Linked DNA regions of Homo sapiens. The protein of the gene in region 2 purifies or fractionates together with the protein of the main gene of each other region. This does not show direct contact. Each region holds a gene or a part of one and is shown on either strand. Other genes may lie near its edges.

Evidence for each region.
Region 1: the proteins of CYTIP (region 2) and EDEM2 purify together in Homo sapiens (affinity purification with mass spectrometry; 3 studies listed by BioGRID and IntAct, with this or other methods). This does not show direct contact.
Region 3: the proteins of CYTIP (region 2) and BLK purify together in Homo sapiens (affinity purification with mass spectrometry; 2 studies listed by BioGRID and IntAct, with this or other methods). This does not show direct contact.
Region 4: the proteins of CYTIP (region 2) and CYTH3 purify together in Homo sapiens (affinity purification with mass spectrometry; 3 studies listed by BioGRID and IntAct, with this or other methods). This does not show direct contact.

Annotation. Positions count from the first base shown.
Region 1 is NC_000020.11:35,116,306-35,123,337, reverse strand, and holds part of EDEM2 (ER degradation-enhancing alpha-mannosidase-like protein 2 isoform 1 precursor), read left to right. Parts: intron 1-4,618; coding exon 4,619-4,740; intron 4,741-6,130; exon of another isoform or gene 6,131-6,202; intron 6,203-7,032. Other genes in the region: MMP24-AS1-EDEM2 (ER degradation-enhancing alpha-mannosidase-like protein 2), read left to right, coding at 4,619-4,740. UniProt on the Homo sapiens protein: Involved in the endoplasmic reticulum-associated degradation (ERAD) pathway that targets misfolded glycoproteins for degradation in an N-glycan-dependent manner.
Region 2 is NC_000002.12:157,427,060-157,434,091, reverse strand, and holds part of CYTIP (cytohesin-interacting protein), read left to right. Parts: intron 1-3,129; coding exon 3,130-3,232; intron 3,233-3,439; coding exon 3,440-3,533; intron 3,534-6,671; coding exon 6,672-6,741; intron 6,742-7,032. UniProt on the Homo sapiens protein: By its binding to cytohesin-1 (CYTH1), it modifies activation of ARFs by CYTH1 and its precise function may be to sequester CYTH1 in the cytoplasm.
Region 3 is NC_000008.11:11,560,367-11,565,111, forward strand, and holds the end of BLK (tyrosine-protein kinase Blk), read left to right. Parts: intron 1-935; coding exon 936-1,086; intron 1,087-2,612; coding exon 2,613-2,744; intron 2,745-3,536; coding exon 3,537-3,742; 3' UTR 3,743-4,233; downstream 4,234-4,745. UniProt on the Homo sapiens protein: Non-receptor tyrosine kinase involved in B-lymphocyte development, differentiation and signaling. B-cell receptor (BCR) signaling requires a tight regulation of several protein tyrosine kinases and phosphatases, and associated coreceptors.
Region 4 is NC_000007.14:6,185,615-6,192,646, reverse strand, and holds part of CYTH3 (cytohesin-3), read left to right. Parts: intron 1-2,115; coding exon 2,116-2,198; intron 2,199-4,925; coding exon 4,926-4,990; intron 4,991-5,530; coding exon 5,531-5,597; intron 5,598-7,032. UniProt on the Homo sapiens protein: Promotes guanine-nucleotide exchange on ARF1 and ARF6. Promotes the activation of ARF factors through replacement of GDP with GTP. Plays a role in the epithelial polarization.

The DNA.
Region 1 (7,032 bases), on a different chromosome or scaffold from region 2:
TACAGATGTGAGCCACTGCGACTGGCCCCATATGCTCTTTCAAATCAGGAAATGAGTGAGAAGGAAAAGGCCAAGGTTGACTCCTTTTGAGCTCCTGCCATCAGGATTTCAGAAGTGTAGGCAAGCTTCCTAAGTCCATGGGTCAGATAAATTATGCTTACGTGTATGGAATGTTAGAACTTTGGGGCGGACCTTAGGAATTACCTAGTCTCTTCCACCTCCCCATTTGCAGCTCAGAATCAAGCAAAGGACTATATTTGAGACACTCTCATAGGTTCCTTTCTAGCCCTAATGTCATTTGATTCACTTCAGGGAAGCTGAAAATTGTGAGGAGGGAAAGAAAAAGAGGGACAAAGGAAGGAAGCTTAGTCAGCACACATAGTCATCCCCCACCCCAAAACAGGCTATGAGCCCATTGTCTTAGACACTTCCCACTTTCCCACCTGAATTGCCTTTTAGCCATGGGACAGGCCTTCTGGTTATCCTGCCTTCCTCTACCCCATTTCCTTCCTCTTCTAACTCAAGTGATTATCGTAGGAGGTGTAGAGGGGACCAGGAGAGGGAATAAAGAGCAAATTCATCAACTTTTGACTCCTTAGAGGCCACTGTTATTGATGTTTCTCATGCATTTGTTCTCATGGCATGTTTTTAAAACAGGAAACTTGGTTGGGCATGGTGGCTCACGCCTGTAATCCCAGCACTTTGGGAGGCCAAGGCAGGTGGATCACCTGAAGTCAGGAGTTTGAGACCAGCCTGGCCAACATGGTGAAACCCCATCTCTACTAAAAATACAAAATTAGCTGGGCATGGTGGCGTGCACCTGTAATCTCAGCTACTGGGGAGGCTGAGACAGTAGAATCGCTTGAACCCGGGAGGTAGAAGTTGCAGTGAGCTGAGATCACGCCATTGCACTCCAGCCTGGGCAAAAAAGAGCAAAACTCCATCTCAAAAAAATAAATAAGTAAATTTTAAAAATAAGAAGCTCTGAGAAGGTATCGTATCTGGTGTTACCAACAGGTAAAGATTAGGGTTTGGAACTAAATGTAAGACATAGGCTTGCACAATCTTAGGGTTAGAGGGAACCTGAGAGGTGTTCTAATTGGAATTTTCCTAATATGGCCCTGTCAAGTGGTTATCTAGTTTTTGCTTAGTTACCACGAGTGACAAGGAGCTTGCTACTTAACAGAGGCAACCTGTTCCATTTGGGACAGGCTGGCAGGAAGGCATTCATGGAAAGTAAGACACTACTGGCCAGATGCAGTGGCTTATGCCTGTAATCCCAGCACTCTGGAAGCCTGAGGCAGGAGGATCATTTAAGCCCAGGGGTTCAAGATCAGCCTGGGCAACATAGCAAGACCTTGTCTCTATAAGAAATATAAATAAATTAGCCAAGAGTGGTGTTGCATGCCTGTAGTCCCATCCCAGCTACCTGGGAGGATCACTTGAGCCCAGGTGGTCGTAGCTGCAGTGAGCCATGATGGCGCCACTGCAATCCAGCCTGGGCAATGGAGTGAGACCCTGTCTCCAAAAAAAAAAAACATAAGGCACCGCTGTCAGGAATCCAGGAGTGCGTTAATCCAGTCATCCCTCCTACCCCAAAACAATGGCAAATAGGAGATAAGGACTACTCTTTCACTAAATTGGCCAGAGCCCTGTACTTTCGTATATGTCTCTCTGATCAGCAGTGTTGGAGCACAGAGCCTAGCCTAAAGGCCTCTGCAGGCTTTTACCTTCCTCTAAGTCCAAATCTGAACTTTGGGCTGTCTCCTTCCTCTAGAGCAGGGATTCCCCAACCCCCAGGCCGTGGACCGGTACAAGTCCATGGCCTGTTAGAAACCAGGCCACACAGCAGGAGGTGAGCTGCGTGTGAGCAAGCAAAGCTTCATCTATATTTATAGCTGCTCCTCATCGCTCACATTGCTGCCTGAGCTCCGCCTCTTGTCTTATCCGTGGTGGCATTAGACGTTCATAGGAGCACAAACCCTATTGTGAACTGCATATGTGAGGGATCTAGGTTGTGTGCTCCTTAGGAGAAGCTGATGCCTGATGATCTGTCACTGTCATCCATCAACCCCAGATAGGGCTGTCTAGTTGCAGGAAAACAAACTCAGGGCTCCCACTGACTCTACATTATGGTGGATTGTATAATTATTTCATTATATATTACAATGTAATAATAATATAAATAAAGTGCACAATAAATGTAATGCACATGAATTATCCCAAAACCATCTCCTACAAGCCCAGTTCATGGAAAAATTGTCTTCCATGAAACTGGTCCCTGGTGCCAAAACGGTTGGGGACCACTGCTCGACAGAGTTGGTCAGATGCACAGGAAAGTAAAGCAATAACTAACATGCTTAGGAGGCCCACATGTGAGGAGAGAAGCGTGATGGCTGGTCATGAGGGCACTGGCCCACCAGCTGCTAGAAGCAGAAGAGGGCTGGGTGTGGTGGCTCACGCCTGTAATCCCAGCACTTTGGGAGGCCAAGGCGGTGGATCAACTGAGGTCAGGAGTTCGAGACCAGCCTGACCAATATGGCGAAACCCTGTCTCTACTAAAAATACAAAAATTAGCCGGGCACGGTGGCATGTGCCTGTAGTCCCAGCTACTCAGGAGGCTGAGACAGGAGAATTGCTTGAACCTGGGAGGCAGAGGTTGCAGTGAGCCAAGATCATGCCATTGCACTCTAGCCTGGGTAACACAGCAAAACTCCCTCTCAAAAAAAAAAAAAAAAAAAAAAGAAGAAGCCGAAAAAAGAAGCAGAAGAGGAGGCCTCCCATGAGGGCACTGTCTTTTCTGCCTTTGAACACACAGAATGTGTTCATCTAGTAATGAATGTACCCTAGTCTGTGCCTTAGAATATGAGCAATTAGATTAGCAATTGTCTAGAGGCCTGTGAGGAGAGGGGAGGAGGAAGTAAGAGAGAACTGGGGAGATAGGCAGAGACCTTTTCTCTAAAATAAGAACTAGAGGCTGGGTGCAGTGACTCACGCCTGTTATCTCAACACTTCAGGAAGCCAAGACTGGCGGATGACTTGAGGTCAGGAGTTTGAGACCAGCCTGGCCAACATGGCGAAACCCTGTCTCCACTAAAAATACAAAAATTAGTCAGGGCTGGTGGCGCATGCCTGTAATTCCAGCTACTTGGGAGGTTGAGGCATGAGAATCCCTTGAACCCAGGAGGCAGAGTTGCAGTGAGCGGAGATCGCACCATGGCACTCCAGCCTGGGTGACAGAGTGAGACTCTGTCACAAAAAAGTAATTAACGGAATAAAATAAGAACCAGAGTTTGCAGCAATAAGCCAAAAGGGACAGAAGCACTGATCAAGCCCAGGAGGAAACAGGACAGGAGAAGGTCAGGGGGAGATGATGGTATAGAAAGGAGACAGGGGTTCTTCTGTCTCTTAGAAAAGATGGATGAAGTAGAAAAACATACTGAGCTGAGGCCACCCTTGAAGTCAACTCTACAACAGTTCTTCAGGTATTTGAAAGCAATAAACACATTTTTTTTGGATTTCCTTATCTCTAGAATAAATATTCTCATCTGGACCCACTCCTGTTGGCTAATATTCATCTTAAGGTAGAGCTCATGTCTTAACATCAAGTTCCAGTTGTGGCATAGAATTGGGCAAGACAAAACATCACTTTTTCTGGCCACAGTGAACTGATGACTACGTCTTTGTTAGATTGACGGTTTGGTGGTTTATTTTATTTTATTTTTTTAATTTTTATTTTTTGAGATAAGGTCTCACTCTTGTCATCCAGGCTGGAGTGCCGCAGTGGCTTAATCATGGCTCACTGCAGCCTCAAACTCCTGGGCTCAAGTGATCCTCCTACCTCAGCCTCCTGAGTAGCTAGGACTACAGGTGCATGCCACACCCAGCTAATCATTTTTAATTTTTGTAGAGACAAGATCTCGCCATGTTGCCCAGGCTGGTCTCAAACTCCTGGGTTCAAACGATCCTCTCACCTTGGCCTCCCAAAGTGCTGGGATTACAGGCATGAGCCACCCACCATGCCTGGCCTGCTCTTGGATATCTCAGCCTTTTCTTTTGGTCCATCCTATCTTAGAACGAGCCTTATGATGCCAAGCTCTTACTCTTCTTTTGAGTTTTAGAATTAGGTTAGACTCTGAGTGACAGGAAAAAAAATAGTAGCTTAATTAGGATAGAAATGTATTTCTCTCTCATGTTCTGGGCTTATATGGCTCGCCATGGTGTCCTTAATCCCACCTAGCTGTTAGAATAGTTAGTGTTGGCAGCCAGGCAGCCTGTGCTTAGCTAAAGTTAGGAATCCTGCTACTAAGGAGGAAGCGGGGAACAGATATTGGGAATTAGGCAACAACCTCCGCCACCTTCTCTATGCCAGAACCTGGCCACCTTTCTCTCCCTTGTGGTGGAAGTCACTGGTCAGCCTTAATGCTGGTCTCCACTGAGCTTCAAGCTTTGGGTATACTGGCTCTGAAACTCAGCACTGGGTGAGGTATCCTGTGTTCCTGCTAGTTGGGGCCTTATGGACAAGATATGGAGGGGAGTAGTCCCTCACGGCCCTAAGAGGCCCCAGGCCATCTCTGTGCAGCCACTGAGTGAGGAGGGTCTGCTTTGGACTTTGCAGAACTTATTGAAAGCGCAATGTACCTCTACCGTGCCACGGGGGATCCCACCCTCCTAGAACTCGGAAGAGATGCTGTGGAATCCATTGAAAAAATCAGCAAGGTGGAGTGCGGATTTGCAACAGTAAGTGTTTGCATGGCCCCAAGAACTGGGAAGAGTCTCCCCTTGCTGCTAAAAAGCCTCTTTAAGGGTAGAGCTTTGGGAGTTCTGACATATCAGCACTAGAAGGGACCTTGGAGATATACATAATGCTCATATTTTACAGATGGGGAGACCAAAGAACAGAGAAGCTAAGTGCCTTGCTAAAGATCTCACAGCTAGTAGAGGTAGAGCTAGAATTAGTTCCTTGGGATCTTGACCCCGGCCCTTGGCATTCCTCCCACAGTGGAGATCTTTGATCTGTTTGAATAGGTGACTTTGAAAAGGTGAGTTTAGCGAAAAGTTTTGTGAGACACTAAAATAGATTTTAAGGGGAATCCAGAGTCCCATAGCCCTATATTCAAACCTGGGACTCCTTAACAAAGCAGTCCTGCTTAGTCTCACAGATATTTCTTGAATGTCTTTCACATGCCAGGCACTCTGCTAGGCCCAAGGGTTACAGCAGTGGCCTTGCTCTCATGGAGCTTACATTTTAATGAGAAAAAAACCATGAATGTGTATCTGGTAGACAGAAGGCCAGTGTGGCTGGAGCGGAGCAAGCAAGGAGAAAAGTGGGAAGAGATAAGGTCCCAGAGGTAGGCAGGGGCTAGATCATGTAGGGTTTTGTGTAAGCCACAGGAAAGAGTTTGGGTTTTTTTTTCTACTTGGAATGTGAACCCTTGGTAGGATTTACAGCAGAGCAGTGACATGATCTGATTTGTATTTTAGAAAGATCGCTTTGGCTGCTTTGTGAAGAATAGATTGAAAGGGTCAAAGGTGAGAGCCATCTCACATCCATGCAGGAACCAAGCAGGCAAGATATAAATATGAAAGTAGAAGAAAATAGTCTGGAAGAAAATCCCCTGAAAAGCCTACAGTGTTGGGGTATGGAATTCAAAACAACAACAAAACACTTATTTTGCAAAAGTTTGTAATGTGATTATATTCTATAAGTAAAATATAGATATGTGTAGGGGAAGAGAGAAGACCTACATGTGGAAGGGAAAAAATAAACCCCTGATATGATTTGGTTTCTAATATGCTGTATTGTGTGAAAAACCAAAATGATAAGCCCACTGGGGCCTTCCTAGGAATGCTGGGCTCATTTCCATGAACATGAAGCCCTTTGGAGGTCTTCCATGGTGAATGATGGGAACAGGGGTCTGACCTTTCTCAAACAGGGCAAGGAAATAATCATCTTGATACATCAAGACCATATTTGAGTCATATTTTTAAATGTAAGATAGAGTCCACTGAGAATGTTTTGTTTAGAAGTATTACTAATTCTGAGAAGCTAAAATAAATGTTTGTAGCAAGTAATCTTAGTCATCCATGCCTGAAAACTCAGTTGAAATTCTCTAAATAAGACTCCTTACTAAAACAATGTCAATAGTTTTCATCAACAGCAGTTGAACCTAGTAAGTGTCGATACTTTGGGTCTGAGTGGAGAAAAAAAGACCCCTTATTAGTTGCTTACAAAAACTTGGTAATTGGCCAAGCGCAGTGGCTCAGGCTTGTAATCCCGGCACTTTGGGAGGCCAAGGCAGGCGGATCACGAGGTCAGGAGTTCAAGACCAGCCTGACCAACATGGTGAAACCCTGTCTCTACTAAAAATACAAAAAAAATTACCTGGGTGTGGTGGCATGTGCCTGTAGTCCCAGCTACTCTGGAGGCTGAGGCAGGAGAATTGCTTGAACCCGGGAGGCAGAGGTTGCAGTGAGCCGAGACCATGCCATTGCACTCCAGCCTGGGCAACAGAGTGAAACTCCATCTCTAAAAAAAAAAAAACTTGGTAATCATCTGAATGCCCTTCCAAGGAGGATTAGCCAAGTAAATGGTGATCCATTTTCACGATGGAATACTCTGCCATCATTAAAAGGGACGATTAGCTCTATGTTTATAGTCACAAAAAGTTGGGATAAAGGGGATAGGAGATTGTCATGTCATAGAGCAAGGTTAGCGGAGACCTTTCTGGTGAGGAAGCATTTGAGCAGAGACCTGAAGGAAGGGAGGGAACAAGCTATGAGAAAAACTGGAGGCGGAGTGCTCCAGGCTGAAAGAACCACAGATGCAAAGAGCCCGAAGCAGGAGGGTGCTGTGCTAGCTCAGGACAGAAAGGCAGCAGCTGGAGCTCTTAGAGTGGTAAGAGGTGAGGGCAGGAAGGGAGCAGGGGCCAGGTCATGACTTGCATTTTTATCCTGCATGAAATGGAGGGCTCACAGAAAGTTGTGAGTAGAGAATTGACAGGAAGACTTATGTTATACAGATACTGTAGG
Region 2 (7,032 bases):
ATCAGCTAGGTCTTAGATAAGAGAGTGAAATACATTTTACAGATGTGTACTTGATATATTTGCATGTGTTTTGTATAATCATATTGTTATACTGTGTATCAGATTTTAAGTATTTACTTTGGCATTCAAGAGACACTCGAAAGACTATACATCTGTGTATATAGAATGCATATATTCATGGATAGCTCCTGGTATGTTTTGCAACTAGAGTTCATATTGTACATAATGAGCAATTTGTAGCTTTTTTTCCTAATGACAATGCTTTATAATTGTTATTTGAAACACTTGAGAACATTTGGCTCTACTTGCAGATTGCCTCATGCTGTAGGAAATTTTTAAGTCTTTATAAGTTTCAGCATAATTGCCTAAGAATTTCATTGCTTATTAGCTGTCTGCTTTTTCATGAGCACATTTGTAAAATGGGTGAGGTAGGTCAAATGAAGTCTAACCCAATTAAGTGCAACAGTAGTAGCTTAAGCATTTCTGTTTTTTTTTTCCATAGTACGTTTGCATGTCTTTTGGATGTGTTTTGCATAATCATATTCTTACACTCTATATCAGATTTTAGATCTTAGCTTTACTGCTGCTTTCAGAAAACTCTGGTGTGATATCAGCCCCACAATTGGAAAGTCAGTGTTTATTTTAAGATTAGGAACAGGAAACTGCTAAGAAAAACATGTTTTATGAGTAAAGAAACAAAATGGAACTTTAGCTGCAATGAAGACAGAGAAGGCACTTTGAAAAGAGGATCACTTCTACTTTCCTAACTCCTGTACTTTTAAATTTGGAGGAATCTGTAATTCACCACAGTAACTGGTGAAATCTATAGGTTTTAGAAGCATAGTGCTCCCTCTTACTCCCCGGTCATATGAACTACTCCCTATTCTGTTGTAGAGACACTGCTTTTTGTCACTGCTTCTTTTTAAAGGAAAATTATCCTCAAGGATGTGCAGCAGTGGCTACTGAAAACTGGATAAACGACTACTCACCTTTCTTTATTTTTCTTATACTGCCATAATAATGTCACTACTTTCTTAAGTTTTTCTCCCATACCATAAACACTTATTCTCCGTGGAGCAAGAGTCAAAACTATGTCAGGCCACAACACCACTGAACTTTTGTAGATCAACATGAACTAATGGCACCTCTAAATGGCAGCATGTAGGTGTTATCTCAGTGATGCAGGAACCCACACTCCTGTAAATTCCCTCTGGTATATGCTCTCCATTGTCAAATACACACCATAATCTATTCCCTAGTACTCATCAGATTTGCAGCAGTTAACAAATAGGAGACATGCTTCTGGGAACTTTTTGAAAATCAGATAGAACCTCATGTACCCATATTGTGCATGCAGTGTGAGTACATGTTTGGGATGTGGCCTACTAGAGGAATGACACTTTGGAAGAGACCAGATCCATGGTTCTCCATGGGAGCTAGTTTTATGCTGCTTATCAGAATCGTGCAGCCCAATAGGAATGCAGACTTTGGACTCATGCACACCTGAATTCATATCCTCCTAATGCCTTATGGGGTCCTTAGGAGTTTTAAATGAAATAATACATGCAATGTACCTAGTGATGTGCCTTACCAATAGAAGATCCACAAATGACAGGTGTTAGAATGAATGTCACTGGGCATGAGAAAGGACAATGAGATCTTTGTGTCTCTAAGAAATGCAGGTGATCATTGTGTCACTGATCCCTTAATGGGAGCTAGAAGACTGGGTAAGAGAAAAAAGCATCCAATTAATACTTTCTGTAGCTTTGGGGTTTCTGTTTTTTTCTATTTCTAACTACCATATTTTACACCCAATGTGAACATATATGGAGGTGCCAGCTACATAAATCAACATGTTTCTACTGCACTGTACTTACTTTGATCTCTGGGAATGGAGGGTAGAGTCTCACTGCTAATGAGAATTGTTAGAACAGTGGTTTCCCAAAGGAGTGTCAGTTGTATATTTTATTCATGTACCACATGAACTAGATCAGTCTTTCATCTCCAGAAGGGTCTAGGCTATACTGAGAAGACCCCTGGCAGGAAAGCTGTCAATGAAGTTTCTGACATAGATGGGAACATAGTGCATGATCTTTTAAAGTCCCTTCTACCTTTAAGATATGGGGATTCTAAGTGCCTTATAGATTAGATAGAAGTCCTTTAGAGGTGAACAGACCCAAGTTTCTAGAAGTTGCTTGCATGTGGCTGACTTGTGATGCCTCAGGGATTATTGAATAAGAAAGAATGAACATCAGACATCAATTTTTTCACAAGGAAGTACTACTTTAATGTAGCTTAATTTTAGGAATCAGATGTTTAAAAGACGTACTCTACTCAGAACACTGATTTTGCTTCTAAGTGGAACTAGACTTCATAATTTAAATGTGTGAAAAAAAGAAAATTATATTTGTTATAGGTCATTGGGACACTATATCTAGCAAACATTTATTCAGTGTTTTGGTATAATTAAAAATAAAAAAACCCACCACCACCAAACTACTTGTGCCTAATTGAGGCAAGAGTTGAAGCTTAACTTTTTCTAATTTAGTTGGGTGACTAATGAACCGGTGAGGATTCAGGACAGGCATACCAGAGGGTGCTCAGAAATGAAGGTAATTGAGTCAATTATAGTACTTTTGAATAAATGCAGGGCAGATTGTCATTATGTGCAGAACTCTGATTTAAAATAATCATTGTTGGCATGTCTCCTTGCTGCATGTGTACAATTTCATACTCCTATAATGAGTGTTTTAGCTTGGGAGAACCACTTAGGGATTTTTCTCATTGCACTTGGCCATCGTTGTTTTATCCCATTGGGAAATGAGAAACTCAATTTTTAAAAATAAATCGTGATAGCATCAGGTGATATCTTGGGCTTGAAAATATAAAATCTTGAGCCACTCTCATTTCACTTTCTTTCTCATGACAGATGTCTTTATGAATGGAGTTGGCTACAGATTGTCTGGTAGAATTGCAAAATTGATACCTTGATTTAGTTTATAGTGGAAATCCTTTGTCCTTTGAACTTACCTATTATACTGCTTAATGATAATTGACATCATTTTAAATTTTGGCAAATAGATGTTGAGGTTGTTAAATAGTAACTATATATCATCTTAATTTTTACAGTCTTACAGGCCCCAGAATCAGAATGCCTGCTCCTCGGAAATGTTCACTTTGATATGCAAAATACAGGAGGACAGCCCAGCTCACTGTGCTGGCCTGCAAGCTGGTAACTTAAATTTTTGCTCATGTTAGGAATCATTTAAATGGAAAGAAAATAAAATGTTTTGAGAGTGAAGGTCAGGATGTATTTGTTGCTTTGAGTTTTCTTGGCTCCTTTATGTTTTTAAGACTTGGAGCTGCTTGTTTCATTTGCATGTCAGGAGGGATTATTTAACTAACCAACATAACACTCATTTTTCTTGGCATCTCCCAGGTGATGTCCTTGCAAATATCAATGGTGTGAGCACAGAAGGTTTTACCTACAAACAAGTCGTTGACCTGATCAGATCGTCCGGAAACCTGCTAACGTAACTATCTGTCTAGTTCCCGTGGGGCTTCAAAATGTTATGTTTTCTCATAAAGCCTGATGAGTGAATAAATAGGCCTTTTGTTCAGCATTACAAGACGGAGTGAGGCAGTGCACCGGAGCTTTAGAGTGGGGTACAAACATTATCAGTTCCTTTTGTTTCTCAAGATTCCTCACACTTGAACATACTGTCAACATCTGAAGTCAGAGGACATCAATAGCCCAAACGTCTGTGTGGGAAGGATGGCCTTTACAAATGTATTTTTTTAATGTCAAATTCAATTAAACTGGCACACATTCTCTTTAAACTGGGAAGAACTGATCCAATTTTCATGGTTGATATAATCCTGTAGCTAAAACAAATCAAAGGTCAGAAGGGCTGAGTTTTTCCTCTTATGTGACAAGCCACCTGTTTTTCTCTTCTAGTGTTCCATTTGGAAGGAAGAATAGTCTGTTCAACCCTCCCCACCCTGAAACACACATACTCACACCACATGTTCCAAATGTTCCAAACTTCTTTTTTTTTTTTTTTTTTTTGAGACGGAGTCTCGCTCTGTCGCCCTGGATGGAGTGCAGTGGCGCGATCTTGGCTCACTGCAAGCTCTGCCTCCCAGGTTCACGCCATTCTCCTGCCTCAGCCTCCCTAGTAGCTGGGACTACAGGCGCCCACCACCATGCCCGGCTAATTTTTTGTATTTTTAGTAGAGACGGGGTTTCATCGTGTTAGCCAGGATGGTCTCAATCTCCTGACCTCATGATCCACCCGCCTCCGCCTCCCAAAGTGCTGGGATTACAGGCATGAGCCACCGCCCCTGGCCCCAAACTTCTTAATAGAACACTGGCTTTCCCAATTAGAGGTTTGACTGATTTTTCTACCATAACAATACTAGCACCTAATAAAATCTTATTAGGATAGTTAAATGATGAAATTCGCTCATTCATTAAAATCATATTTATTGAGCAAATACTATGTTTCCAGCTCTGTGATAGGCTCAGGAGAGACGAAGATAAAGACTCTCTTAGTACGTTAATAGTTATGGAAGGAAATGGCTCAGAAAAGCCTGAAATTTAAGTAATGTGTATATTTCAGTTATTGATAACTACTATGAGAAAAGTGCAAAACAGCAATGGCCTGTCATGCTAGGTAAGAAGGCTGCTAGTTTGGCTTAGATGTGTAAAGTGGTCTTTTCTAGGGAGGCGATATTTGAGTTGAGATCTAAATGAAGAGAAGGATGGTCAAATGAACTCCTCGTAAGAGCACTTCAGGCAAAGAGAGAGGTCTCTGAGTGCTCACAATGGGCTTGGCATGTACAAGGGAAAGAGAAAAAGACAGTATAATTGGTATTTGATGGATTAGAGAGGGTATAATAAGAAATGAAGCCAGAGAGTTGGCCTGGGGGCAGACCATGGATCTCTTTGGACATGCCAACAAGTTTGGGTTTTATTCTGATTGAGGTGGGTCATATATTGTGTCATTTATTCTTCACAGCCACCCATGAGGTTAATTTTATTCCTATTTATAGATGAAGTGCCTGAAGCTTAGAGGGGGCTTAGTTAAGGTCACATAACTGGTAAGTGATAGGGCTGGGGTTTGACCACCTGCTCTGGATGCCAGGATCTGTCCTTTTCAGCTACAGCTGCTCCTTGGAAGCTGCCAGTAGAAAATCTGCTGGATGCTTTTCAGTGATTCTGGTGTAAAACTTCAAAGGATGCTTTGGGTGTTTGTGAGAGCAGATTTGAAAGATGGTGGTGGTAACAAATTGGGTCCAACTCTATAGGTCCTGTGAGTTCAGGGTAAAGGATGAGGTGCTTTTGCTCTAGAGAACCCTGGATCCAAAGGAGAGGAACCGTGCAGAGTCTGAGGGGAACTGCTGGTAGTTAGAGTCAGAAAGCATGTTCCACATGGGTGAAGAGGGTAGACCACAGGTAAATAGGGGTTGTAGATGGAGGTAACTGTTGGAAATCCGGGAAAATGGGAGACAGTCTGTACAAATACTGAGGAAAATGGCCAAATCAATGGTTGCAGTTTTGCCCATACACATCTATTGCTTCAGCAGGTCAAACTGACATTCAATCCCAATGAAACAGATTCATATGGATTCCCACTATTTCTCAGAGAGTCAAGATCACCTTAAGGAGAAAACAGACAGTATATAGCTTGCTACCACCTGATTATTCCTGGCATGATGCTATTAGAAGTAGAAGACTGATCTCCACATTTAATGCTTTTACCATGCCTTGAAAAATTCCTTGCATCTTTATAGAGAGGTACAGCTTAATTACAAGAAGGAACTTGAACCAACACTTTAAAAATTGGTGTGTGATTCACAAATGAAATTTTTAAATCATATTCAGATTGATGGTTTAGTAGTCAAAATAAAAGCCTTTAACTTGAACACACAGAACAAATCAAATCACTCAGAATAGAACAAGTATTTTATTTTTAGAAATGTGTGTGGTGTGGGAAGAACAGAACACTGGTAAGTTGATAATTCTAGGATTAGAGTTTGTAAACTGAATGTTTTGAGATAAAGAATCATATGAAGGTTATTATGTCATAGTAGTTGTACTTCTGTTTCTTCTAGTACCAAAATTATAAGGAGATTTACAGAGGTAAAGGCTCCTAGAATCCTATGGAGGAAAGGATTTCTCCCTCTTTCAAGAAGTAGCATGTTAATTCCATGGTTGTGAAAGCCCCTAGAGCCTATTATTTCTGTTGTTGTGCCCCTTGTGTTCAGCATGGTTTCTAGAATCTGGTACATAGTAGATGCCCAATAAATATTTACCAAATGAGTGAGGTCATTCAGCCCATCCCCACAAGAACAGATTCTAGTAGAGAGCAGCCATCATTGTCACATAGTGACTTCTATAAAATAAGCTATAGTTTACAAATTAACTAGGATCCTTTCTTTTAGCCACCTTCTCAAGGGGAGTTTTCCCCCATTTTCTTTCTCTGTTATCAGAAGATTTGGCTTTGGTCCAGCTACTCGAAGTGCCATGAGAACTGTAACATTTGTATTTCGTTTTTAGTATAGTATGTGCTCAAAGTGTAGTACTCTGTAGTATGGTACTTATTTAAACGAATCACTCATGTTACTCACTCCCCACCTTCCTCTTCTTTTTTTTTTCCTTAAAACAGGATAGAGACTCTTAATGGAACAATGATTCTGAAAAGAACGGAGCTTGAAGCAAAGCTGCAGGTTTTAAAGGTAATTTAATTTAATGCAGTGAGGCACATTTTTCATCCTTGAATGTGTGAGTGGTAAAATAAAGATCTATTTGAGGAACTGAGATAGCCCTTGAAAAAGAAATGTCGTGGTGAATCTAAACTGCTGAATTATCAAGAGCCGCACAATTACCTTTGGAGGAATATCAAATTCTGCAAACCAGTGTAAATCACTTTCTTCCTTCCTCCTTCTGTGTGTCTATGAGGCTCAGAAAGGCAACAGGAAGGCATGCCACTTGAAGAACTCTTCATTAGTGCACCTGTGATCTCTATT
Region 3 (4,745 bases), on a different chromosome or scaffold from region 2:
ATGGATGGGTGGGTGGATGGATGGATGCATGGATGGATGGATGCATGGATAGATGGATGGATTCATAGATAAACCAACAAAATGCAAGCATAAGGAGAAGTGGAATCAATTCTAGTGCTGGCTTCTTGAAGTCGCATGTCTGAAGAGGTAAATGGGGTCTCTGCTTTCTGCCTCAGTTTCTTCGTCCATTGATTGGGTGAATAAAGCCTTAGTTTCCTCAGCTAAAAGGTGCCAAGTAGCACCAGCTGCTATCCCTGGCCCAGGCTGGTGATCAGGGGAGGAGAGACAAGTCTCTTCTTCTTCACAGCCTCTGTCCACCTGGATCTGCCAGTGCTCCCTGGGTGCCCCCACGGGGCAGGCGCTGGGTGAGGTTCTTGGTCACAAATCAACCTCGTCTAATGCTTGCCTCAACCCCCTGCCCTGGAGACCACATCCCTCATGTTCCATGTCAGGACTGTGGCCCCTCGGGGAGGTTAAGCAGCTTGCTAGAGGTCAGCGACTTCCCGAGGGCCTCCAGCTCCAGGAGCTGTGCTTCCAGCCAGCCAGTGAGAGCTGCCTGTCCTTGCCTCCTGCTCCCCCTCCCCCTCCTTCCTTACCATTTCTTCTCTTCTCCCTCCCTCTCCTTTTCTCCTGCCTGTGTTCTTCTATCTTCCATCTCTGCAGACCCTTGGACACAGCTGTGTGGAGCGAGAACGAGGAGGGGGAGGGGCACAGGTAGCCCCTGTGTCTCTGATGCCCACGTTGCTGCGTTGCTGTTCTGGGCTTCTAGGAGAGGAGTTTATTCGGCTGAGGAGCAACACAGTCACCTTTCTACTCCATCCAAGAAACAGCTCCTTCCCCAGCAGCCCACAGGGGCTGTGCGGGGGACACAGTGTGGGCTCGGTCTTGGCGTGGAGGCCCCCAGGCTGTCCTTCACCATGTGCCTGTTCCCTCAGATTGCTGAAGGGATGGCATACATTGAGCGCATGAATTCCATCCACCGCGACCTGCGGGCGGCCAACATCCTGGTGTCTGAGGCCTTGTGCTGCAAAATTGCTGATTTTGGCTTGGCTCGAATCATCGACAGTGAATACACGGCCCAAGAGGGTAAGCACAGCCCCTAACCACAAGGGAAACCTAGGGCCTTATCTTTCCCAGCTCCTCAAAGCCGCCTTTAACTTCTCCCAGCACAGCCCTGAGGGAAGACACCTGAGGGCTATACGGTTTCTACAGCTCTAGATCAGCATTTCCTTCATTTACCCAAATGTGTTCAGCAGAATGGTAGTGCCCTGAGACCTCCCATGGAGGAACAGCTTTAGGATAAGGTAGGTTTGGAGAAACAGCAGTCCACCCTACTCCCTGTCTTGGAGATTCCCAGTGCACATCAACATATTAAAGGCACTGAGAAGTCCTGCAGCAAAGAAACAGTTTATGTTTGCCTCACCTAGTGCCTCCCAAACTAATTTGAGCTCCAAATACTATTTTTTTTTTTTTTGAGATGGAGTCTCTGTCACCCAGGCTGGAGTGCAGTGGCACAATCTTGGCTCACTGCAACCTCCGCCTCCTGGGTTCAAGCAATTCTTCTGCCTCAGCCTCCCAAGTAGTTGGGATTACAGGCGTGTGCCACTACACCTGGCTAATTTTTGTATGTTTAGTAGAGATGGGGTTTCACCATGTTGGCCAGGCTGGTCTCGAACTCCTGAATTTAGGTGATCTGCCTGCCTTGACCTCCCAAAGCGCTGGGATGACAGGTGTAAGCCATGCCCAAATACTATTTTTATATAGTCCCTATTAACCTTCCATGGAATTAGGCTTTCACAGAGCACACTGTGGGAAACACAGCTCTCATGTGCGATCAGCAAACCAACCTGTATTAGGGTGTCCACGGAGCACTGTTTTACTCTGTGCATATAACTGAGGTGGAAATCTACGTCACAAGAGAATCTGAAGGGGTCACATATATTTATCAAGCTAGCAAGCAGTGTCTGCTGAGCCTATGAGTCAGATGACAAGCAGACAGGATATGGCTTGTTCTCTCGGGAACTTCAGGCTGGCTGGGGAGACCGAGAAATGGAGGCCAGGGGAGGCTGTGAAGTGCCAAGCCCTGAGGTCTGCTCCAAATGCTGGCCGGGGCTGCAGCCATTGAGGTGCTTCACAGGGCAGCCGGATGTGAGTTCTTCCTCATAGCGGCCCTCGGAGGTACAAGTGTCACCATTTCCATTTTGCAGGAAGGGACTAACGGAGGCGCCCGCAGGTTTAAATGGCTTGCCCAGGCCATGTCTTTTAAATTAAACAAGGCCCCTGTAAGGTGAAACAGGCCCCTTCCATCCCAGGTGGAAACGTGGTGGCTGCCCATTGAGGCCATCGCTCTCTTTTTAAAGAACCAAAGTGGGTGACTGTGTGGTATTGGTGTCCATATCGTCTTTCTGTGCTGCTGATGTCGTGTCTGCACTCACCTGGTCATGTGTCCTGGTGTGCGGTAGTGGCTCCCCCGCCATGCCTGGCCGCCCCGCCCTGTGAGGCCCCGCAGTGGGGGCTTGATGGAAGGACAGCAGGAGCAGGGGTAGGGGTGAGGATGGAGGGTAGGGGCCACCGGCCGTGGCCTCCCAAAGCTTGCATGGCTTTTCCCACAGGGGCCAAGTTCCCCATCAAGTGGACAGCCCCGGAAGCCATCCACTTCGGGGTCTTCACCATCAAAGCAGACGTGTGGTCGTTTGGAGTCCTCCTGATGGAAGTTGTCACTTATGGGCGGGTGCCATACCCAGGTAGGTGGCTCACCCCGCAGCTCGCGGCTCCCTGCTTTCCCGGCCGGCCCTGATGGCAGGTCGCCTGTGCTTGGTGCCTGTGGCTGCCCTGTTCTTTTCAGAGTGAGTCCCAGAGCGAAGACGGAGACCCAGGCATGGCATCTGGGGTGGAGCTCTGCCCCCTGCATCACTATTGCTCTGGGCCACAGGGCTGTGTCTCCTTCCTCCAGCAGAGGTCAAATGAGTCCCTCAAACTGAAATCAAGACAAAGGGCACATCCGAACTCAAGTTTACTCCCAGTGGCTTGTTCTCAGTTGAGGACAGGTTGTGCCTACCTTGGCTTTGCACCCATAGTGGATTCCCCAAAGCCCCTTCCTGTGTGGCCAGAATCGTGGACGACAGCCCCCAGCCCCAGTCGAAGGGCTCCAGCCACTTGGCCCCCACAGGTGGGCAGGCTCCGGGTCACCTGCTGCTGTGTGCACCTGGCAGCTGCCCATGAGTGATGGGCTTGGCTGTGCCCCTGGTGGTCACAGGTAATCAAGAGAGGGAGGGTCCCATCTTCAGAGGACCTGCCCCGTACTCAGGAGAAAATCTACAGCCTCATTTCTAGGCATTCCCCAGGCAATAAAAAGTAAATAAAGGGCTGTTTAGAGACCGGGCAGCCAGGCAACGCACGAGGCTGGAGAAGTGGTCTGGGACTGTGGGCACTGCTGTCCCTTGCCTGGGCCCACTGTGCCCCGCGGGACGCTCAGGGCCCCCCACCCACCGAGGACCCCAGCCCCTCACCCCCGCTTGCGGTCTCCTCTGCCGCAGGGATGAGCAACCCCGAGGTCATCCGCAACCTGGAGCGCGGCTACCGCATGCCGCGCCCCGACACCTGCCCGCCCGAGCTGTACCGCGGCGTCATCGCCGAGTGCTGGCGCAGCCGGCCCGAGGAGCGGCCCACCTTCGAGTTCCTGCAGTCGGTGCTGGAGGACTTCTACACGGCCACCGAGCGGCAGTACGAGCTGCAGCCCTAGCCGGCCGCGCCCGCCTGCGCCCCGTGCCCACCTCTGCGCGGACGACCCCGACTTCCGTGCCATCCCAGACGGGCCGCGAAGGCGGGGTGTCGCCTGTGCCCTTTTCTCAGACCCGGAATCCAGTGGGCAGAGGCAGCTTCGCAGGGGGTCCCCGGACGGACTCCTTCACCGACTGCACCCCCGGGCGAGTTACGCGGCCTCTCTGTGCCGCTTCATTTGTAGAGGGCTGTAACAGTGACCTCGCACGGTCATCCGGAGTACTAAGCCCCAGTAAGGTGTTCAGGACTGGTAAGCGACTGTCATCAAGTAAGGCCCCCGTGCTGGGCACCCCCCGTGCTGGCCGCGTCCCCGCCTCTGCGCCCTGCGTGGACCCCGCCCTGCCCCGCTACAGAAGCCAGACTGGGTCCCGCGGACGCCAGCAGGGGCAGCCCCAGCCTAGGCTGCGCTCCAGCACTGCGGGGCTTTTCTGCAATAAAGTCACGAGCGTTCGAGCTGTTCCGTGTCGTTACCTGTGACAAGCTGGACATCGCGTGCAGGACGAGCACGGGGCGCAGGCGTGGCGCAGCCAGGGAGTCCCGCGTGGTCTGGGCTCCCGGCGGTTGAGCGGGGCCCGCAGGGGGCGCTGTGGCCTCATAAATCCGTGGCTCGGGCCCGCGCCGGGAGCTCTGGGCGGGGAAAAGCCAGGGGCTGACGCTGTGGGCCGGCGCTTTGGGGACGGCTAGGACGCGAGCCCAGCTCCAGAGGCTCCGAGTCCCCAGGCCAGGTGCATAAACAAGGATCGGGTGACGATGGGGCGTAAAAGCGAGGAACGTCGGCGGCTCCCACTACATGGAGGCTCTTCACTTGGCATGTTTTTGTTTTGTTTTTAATAGACCGATTTTTTTTTTAGCAGTTAGGTTTACAGAAAAAAAAAGTGGGAATTAAGTAGACAGTCTCCATATCTCGCCCATTTCCCCTATTACTAACATCGTGCAATGGTGGTGCATTTGTTATCACTGATGAG
Region 4 (7,032 bases), on a different chromosome or scaffold from region 2:
GGCAGGAGAATCACTTGAACTCAGGAGGTGGAGGTTGCAGTGAGCTGAGATCGTGCCACCGCACTCCAGCCTGGCGACAGAGCGAGACTCTGTCTCAAAAAAAAAAAAAAAAAAAAATTGACTTGTGGCTGGGCACAGTGGCTCACATCTGTAATCCCTGTGCTTTAGGAGGCCAAGGTAGGAGTTTTGCTTCAGGCCAGGTGTTCAAGGCCAGCCTGGGCAACATAGCAAGACCCTGTCTTTAAATTTAAAAAAAAAAAAATTAGCCAGACATGGTGGCGCATGTCTGTAATCCTAGCTACTTGGGAGGCTGAGGTGGGAGGATTGCTTGAGCCCAGGAGTTCAAGGCTACAGTGAGCCATTGCAGCATTTCACTGCAGTGAGATCCTGGCCAGCAGAGTGAGATCCTGTCTCTACAAAAAACAATAATATAATTTGTAGGAGTTACATATTTTGAATCCGAATTCTTTGGCAGTTTCTGGCTCAGCTCTTCTTCACTCTGTGGTGTGGAACTTTTGGAGAATAAAGTTTTTATTTATTAATTTTTTTTTGAGACACAGATTCTGTGTTGCCCAGACTGGAGTGCAGTGGCACAGTCAGCCTCACAGTCATGATCATAGCTCACTGCAGCCTCAAACTCCTGGGCTGAAGTGATCCTCCCACCTCAGGCTCCCAAAGTGACTGGGCCCACAGGCATGCACCACCATGCCTGGCTATTTTTCATTTTCTTTAGTTCAGATGGGGGTCCCACTGTATTGCCCAGGCTGGTCTCGAACTCCTGGCCTCAAGTGATCCTCCCACCTTGGCCTCCCAAAGTGCTTGGATACAGGCATGAGCCACCTTGCCTGGCCTAGTTTCTTAACTTTGATATAATTAAATGTATTAATATTTTCCTTTGTGATTTATATTTTGTCTATCTTGTTTAAGAAGTCCTTCCCTGGCTGAGTGCAGTGAACCCAGGAGACGGAGGATGCAGTGAGACAAGATTGTGCCACTGCACTCCAGCCAGGGTGACAGAGTCAGATTCTGTCTCAAAAAAAAAAAAAAAAAAAAAAGTCCTTCCCTACCCTGAAATTATAAAAAAAATTCTCCTGTATTTACTTCTAAAAATTGTGTAGCGTTTCCCCTTCACATTTATACTTTTAATCCACTTGTAATTGATTGAAAATATGTGTGATTGATAACATACAATCTGCTTTTATTTTTTCCATATAAATAACTGTTTTCACACATATTTATTGAAGAGTCCAGTCTGTTTTTGAGCTGAGTGTCAGCTCTGCTGTGAATCATATTTTCGTCGGCCTGTGGTCTTTTCCTGGGCGCTGTCTATGTTGATTTATTTATTTATTTATTTTAATTTTTGTAGAGAAAGGATCTCACCATCTTGCTCAGGCTGGTCTTGAACTCCTGGGCTCAAGCGATCCTCCTGCCTCAGTGTCCCAAAGTGCTGGGATTAGAGACGTGAGCCACCGTGCCTGAATTTAGCCTTCTTTCATAGTCATCATTTTATTTGTGAGACTCATCCATATTGATAGACTTAGCTCATTCTTTTTAATTTTTTTTTTTTCCCGAAACAGAATCTCCCTCTGTTGCCCAGGCTGGAGTGCAGTGATGTGATTTTGCCTCACTGCAGCCTCCGCCTCCTGGGTTCAAGCAGTTCTCCTGCCTCAGCCTCCCGAGTAGCTGAGATTACAGGCATGCGTCACCACACCCAGCTGATTTTTGTATTTTTAATAGAGATGGGGTTTCACCGTGTTGGCCAGGCTGGTCTCAAACTCCTGACCTCAAGTGATCCACCCACCTCAGCCTCCTAAAGTGCTGGGATTACAGGCATGAGCCACCGTGCCTGGCCTGAAAAAATATTTTTGTTGGATGGGATTCTATTTTATGAATGTACCGCAATTTATTCGTGTTCTTACTGATGAATATTTAGGCTGTTTTCTGGTTATAAAGAGCGCTCCTATGAGTGTCTCAGATACAGTCTCAATGGGAGCATTTCTTTAGGATAAATACCTGCGTATGGAATTGCTGGGTGGCAGCATGTACCCACCTCAACCTTGCTGGATGTTGCCAATGTGTTCTCCAAAGTAGTTAATTATTTTTTTCTTCTTTCAGTGCCTGAAGACCTCTCATTAGAAGAGAGAGAAGAACTTCTAGACATTCGTCGAAGAAAAAAGGAACTTATTGATGACATTGAGGTAAAAAAAAAAAAAAAAAACCAAAAATCCAAAACTCTGTTTTTTGCTTTTGAGTAAAATAGTAAAAGAGTAGCCTCACAAAAATGTAAAAAAAAAAAAAAACCCAAAAACAAAAAATAACAAAAAAAAAAGATGTTTAGTGTGTGCATATAAGAACTACACAAAGAGACAGAGTGAAAAGTTATCAAGTTGGGAAAGCAAAGACTCCACACAGGCAGTGAGACCCCGGGTAGAAATCAAGACATCGTAGAACTGAGGTCAGCAGTAGCCAGCTCGCAAACCCAGGGCCACAGGCAGCGTATCATCTAAAGCAGCAGCAAGCCACGAGCGCATTGCTCTGTCAAATTGTGCACTGAGACCCTCTTTCGTTAACTAATATGTTTTTTTGTTTGTTTTTTTCTTTTTGCTTTTTTGAGACAGAGTCTCGCTCTGTTGCCCAGGCTGGAGTGCAGTGGCACAATCTGGGCTCACTGCATCCTTTGCCTCCTGGGTTCACGCCATTCTCCTGCCTCAGTCTCCTGAGTATCTGAGATTACAGGCACCCACCACCACACCCAGCTAATTTTTTGTATTTTTAGTAGAGACAGGGTTTCACTGTGTTAGGCAGATTGGTCTTGATCTCCTGACCTCGTGATCCGCTCACCTCAGCCTCCCAAAGTGCTGGGATCACAGACGTGAGCCACTGCGCCCAGCCACCAATATGTTAATGTTCTAGCACCTAGAACATTGCCTGTTCCATTTTTGGCTCTCAGATGCCCTTTGAGTGAATATGTGGGCATGTATTGGGTTCCAGCTGTGTACCAAGTGCCTACCAGGTGGTAGGAGTAGGATGACACATTAGGCCGGGCACAGCGGCTCACACCTGTTATCCCAGCACTTTGGGAGGCCAAGGCAGGAGGATCTCTTGAGCCCAGGAGTTCAAGACCAGCCTGGGCAACATGGTCAAACCCCATCTCTACAAAAAATGCACGCCACCATGCCCAGCTAAGTTTTGTACCTGTAGTCCCAGATACTCGGGAGGCTGAGGTGGGAGGATCACCTGAGCCCAAGAAGCTGAGGCTACAGTGAACTGTGATTGTGCCAGTGTACTGCGGACTGGGCAACAGAGCAAGACCCTGTCTAAAAAAAAGAAAAAGTAAAGACAAATAAAAACACAGGCACACAAACATGGGCTCTTCCACACTTGTGTACTTTACTCAGAGGATGGGGTAGAGGGCGGTCCCACAGGAGAAGCATGTGAATAAAGCCACCGTCTCGGCGTGGGAGAGCCTGTGATTGTTACAGAAGTGATTCAGAGGGCCGGCCCTGGCTCCTTCCGTTTGGGGCTTCCTTGGGAAAGTCAATCAGACATGGAGGTCTTCTTTGAGAAGCTTTCTAGTCATTGTCATTGCCAAAATAAATGTGGCTTCACAGGCCACGGCAAGGACAGGCCTTGTCCCAGACAATAGCTCCTTTCTAGGAGTTTGCGTTTTAAGTCCGAGTGTCTTGGCATATAATAGGGTCCTGAATAAAAATGTCTTTGTATTTGAAAGGTAATTCATGGAAATTTTTCTTCTAAGGTTACCCTTCATTCTTGGGAAAATCAGATAACCCAGAATTGGTCTCTGGTTGAAGAATAAGGATGTATATTATTTGGACCTTAGTAATCAGCCTGCTGGATAAATGTGGAATCGTAATCTAGCTCTAACTACTTCATTTTATCAGTGAGCACACTGAGGCCCAGGGAAGTTGGAGGCTTCCAGAGGTCAGTCTCATTAGTAGGGGTCACATCAAGGGAAAGGGGGTCTGTCCCCTTGGATGCATTTGGCTTCTCTGAGTGCCCTGAGTCAGTTCTGTTCACCCCCGGGCTCTGTCCATGGTGCTTCATCTCATTCAAGGTGATACAAGTGATCCTGAGACCACTGACCTAAACACACCTGAGCTTCAGCCTGAGACCACCGATCTAAACACACCCGAGCCTCAGCTTCTCCCTGGGAACACAGGCAGTGTTGAAGGAGGAGGCAGGTGACAACTGTTTGCATGGCAGGGCTGAATAGTGCAGTTAAGCGAACTGAGGACTCATGGCTTTCCTTTTGCTGGGCTTTTTTTTTTTGTTTTTTTGTTTTTTTTAAAAAAAGAGACCAAGTCTTGCTCTGTCACCCAGACTGGAGTACAGTGGTGTGATCATGGCTCACTGCAGCCTCAAACTCGTGGGTTCATGCAGTCCTCCCTCCTCAGCCTCTCTAGTAGCTAGGACTACAGGCATGTACCACCACACTCAGCTAATTTTTCTGTTTTTCTTTTTTGTAGCAATGAGGCCTTGCTACATTGCCCAGGCTGTTCTCAAACTCCTGATCTCAAGCGATCCCTCTGCTTCAACCTCCCAAAATGCTGGGATTACAGGCATGAGCCACTGCTCCTGGCTTGGTTTTATCTTTTCACAGCTGTGATATTCCCCCCCCAGTGTGCTTGCCTGATTTTATATACAAATACCCTAGGATCTGCAGAGTGGACCCCTCTGAACCTGGTATCTGATGAAAAGTGAGCAAAGAATTTTGTGTTCTCCTAAGTTGTGGTGGCTTTGACTATGAAGCTCTAGCTGTATTGATAATAGTATTGGTTTTTCCATCCCTGTGATGCTCCGGTGAGACCGCAGGGAAGCTTGTCACAAGAGAACTAAAATTTCTGAGTCTCAGGGGAGGAAGGTTAAGACCCACTCCCCACCTCGAAATTCTTCTTTTTTGACAGAGGCTGAAATATGAAATTGCAGAGGTGATGACAGAGATCGACAATCTAACTTCCGTAGAGGAGAGGTAACAATTTGTGGCTACACCTTTAAGCTATTTACTCTTTTCTTTCTACCTCCATCCTGTAGTCAAACTTGCAGAAAGTGGGGTGAGAGTGGTTGGGATGTGGGGAGCCTGTGGAGTTGTTAATTCCTCTCCTCTCCCCCTACTCTGCGTGGAGGGGTCCAGGGGTGTTTCCCTGGATGTTACCTCCCATTGCCTCCTCTGTAAGTCATCATCTGCCTTTATAGGTTCAGGCATAAGCACAGGCACTTCAGGGTTGACCCGCACAGAAATTACCTGCCTGCGTCATAAGGAACTGTGCTTTATTAAAATCACTGGTTTGCATCATTAGCTTTTTCTGAAGTGTCTCAAGTTATCAAATGTGAACAGCAATGGTGGCTGCACCACCCCTGCCGCCACTGCGGAGACTGGGGGCCCCTCCGTGAGGGCCTGTGCTTCGCTTCCTTGAGCCCGTTGTTGCGGGGGAAAGTACACTGGAGGGCCGTGACTGGGCTGCATTGTGAAAACAGCATGAGTGATTTTTAAATTATTTCACACCAATAGCAAAACGACTCAGAGGAACAAACAGATAGCCATGGGAAGAAAGAAATTCAACATGGATCCCAAAAAGGTAAGAGAATGCTCTCCCTTTTCTGGCCTGCAGGAGATGGACTAATTGATTTGAACTGCCGTTTCCCTTTTGGACAGAGGTCAGAGGTGGTCCGCCCTGTCACCTCATAAAAGACTGGGAGTTGAAGGCACATTTTTATCAAAAAGGGGCTTTTCGCGAGTGGGGTGAAGCAGAAGTGCCTTGTAGGGCTGGTGCCCTGGGCAGAAAGGCCTTTCTTTCAGAGTGAGCTGCTGGGTGAGGAAGCAGCCTCACAGGCACGGCTTGGACGACTCAGCACAGGCCGGGCTTGGCTCCAGGCAGTGCCCTTGCTGTCGAGGCTCATATTCGCATCTTCCCGCTTGACCTGGGTCAGGGAATCACGTGACTAGGAAGGAGCAGGGGTGGGAGTGGAACCCTGGTGTCCAGAGGTTACGGACTTTATAATCTGGGTGGGTTAAGTGGTTCACATAAGAGGACTTTATTCCTCCATTCACCTTAAAAAGCAGGTGTCTGTGAAAAAACAAGGGATCCTCCACATTTAAGCCAGCATCTTTCTCTTTCCTCAAGTTGGATTTTCTAGGGAGACACTCGAAAACCGTGAAACCTGAAACATGTAGCTGCTTGTTTTTGAGACCGAGCTAAGGGATTTGGCAGAATCTGTGAAGCTTTTTGGGGGACATTTTGGTTTTGAGAAAGAAGGGTAGACCTGAGTCTTCAGGGTTGAGGAGAGGAACGGCGTGTCCACGGGAAGGTCTCGCTGCAGAGCTGGTTCACGCCACTCCTGTGGTCTTCAGTCGGTCTGCACTTTTTTTTTTTTTTTTTTTTTTGAGATAGAGTCTTGCTCTGTCACCCAGGCTGGAGTGCAGTGGCACGATCTTGGCTCACTGCAAGCTCCGCCTCCCGGGTTCACGCCATTCTCCTGCCTCAGCCTCCCGGGTAGCTGAGACTACAGGCGCCCGCCACCACGCCCGGCTAATTTTTTGTATTTTTAGTAGAGATGGGGTTTCACTGTGTTAGCCAGGATGGTCTTGATCTCCTGACCTCATGATCCGCCCGCCTCGGCCTCCCAAAGTGCTGGGATTATGTGCGTGAGCCACCGTGCCTGGCCCAGTCGGTCTGTACTTCTAACGTTCCCCTTGCTTTTCTGGCATTGAGCCTCTGTGCTAATGAGTTAATTATTTGTTCCTTCGATAAATATCTGATTGCAGAATTCCATTGTACAAGGTCTAAGATCTGTAAACTCACATAAGTGCAGGTGCAGTTGCAGGTGATATTTACAGAAGTGCATGTCGTTATTTCCTGCTCACGGTTTGCAGGTCTGGGACTGCAGGTATGCGCCACTGCACCCAGATAATTTTTTTTTTTTTTTTTGAGACAGAGTCTAACTCTGTTGCCCAGGCTGGAGTGCAGTGGTGCGATCTCGGCCCACCGCAAGCTCCACCTCCCGGGTTCACAC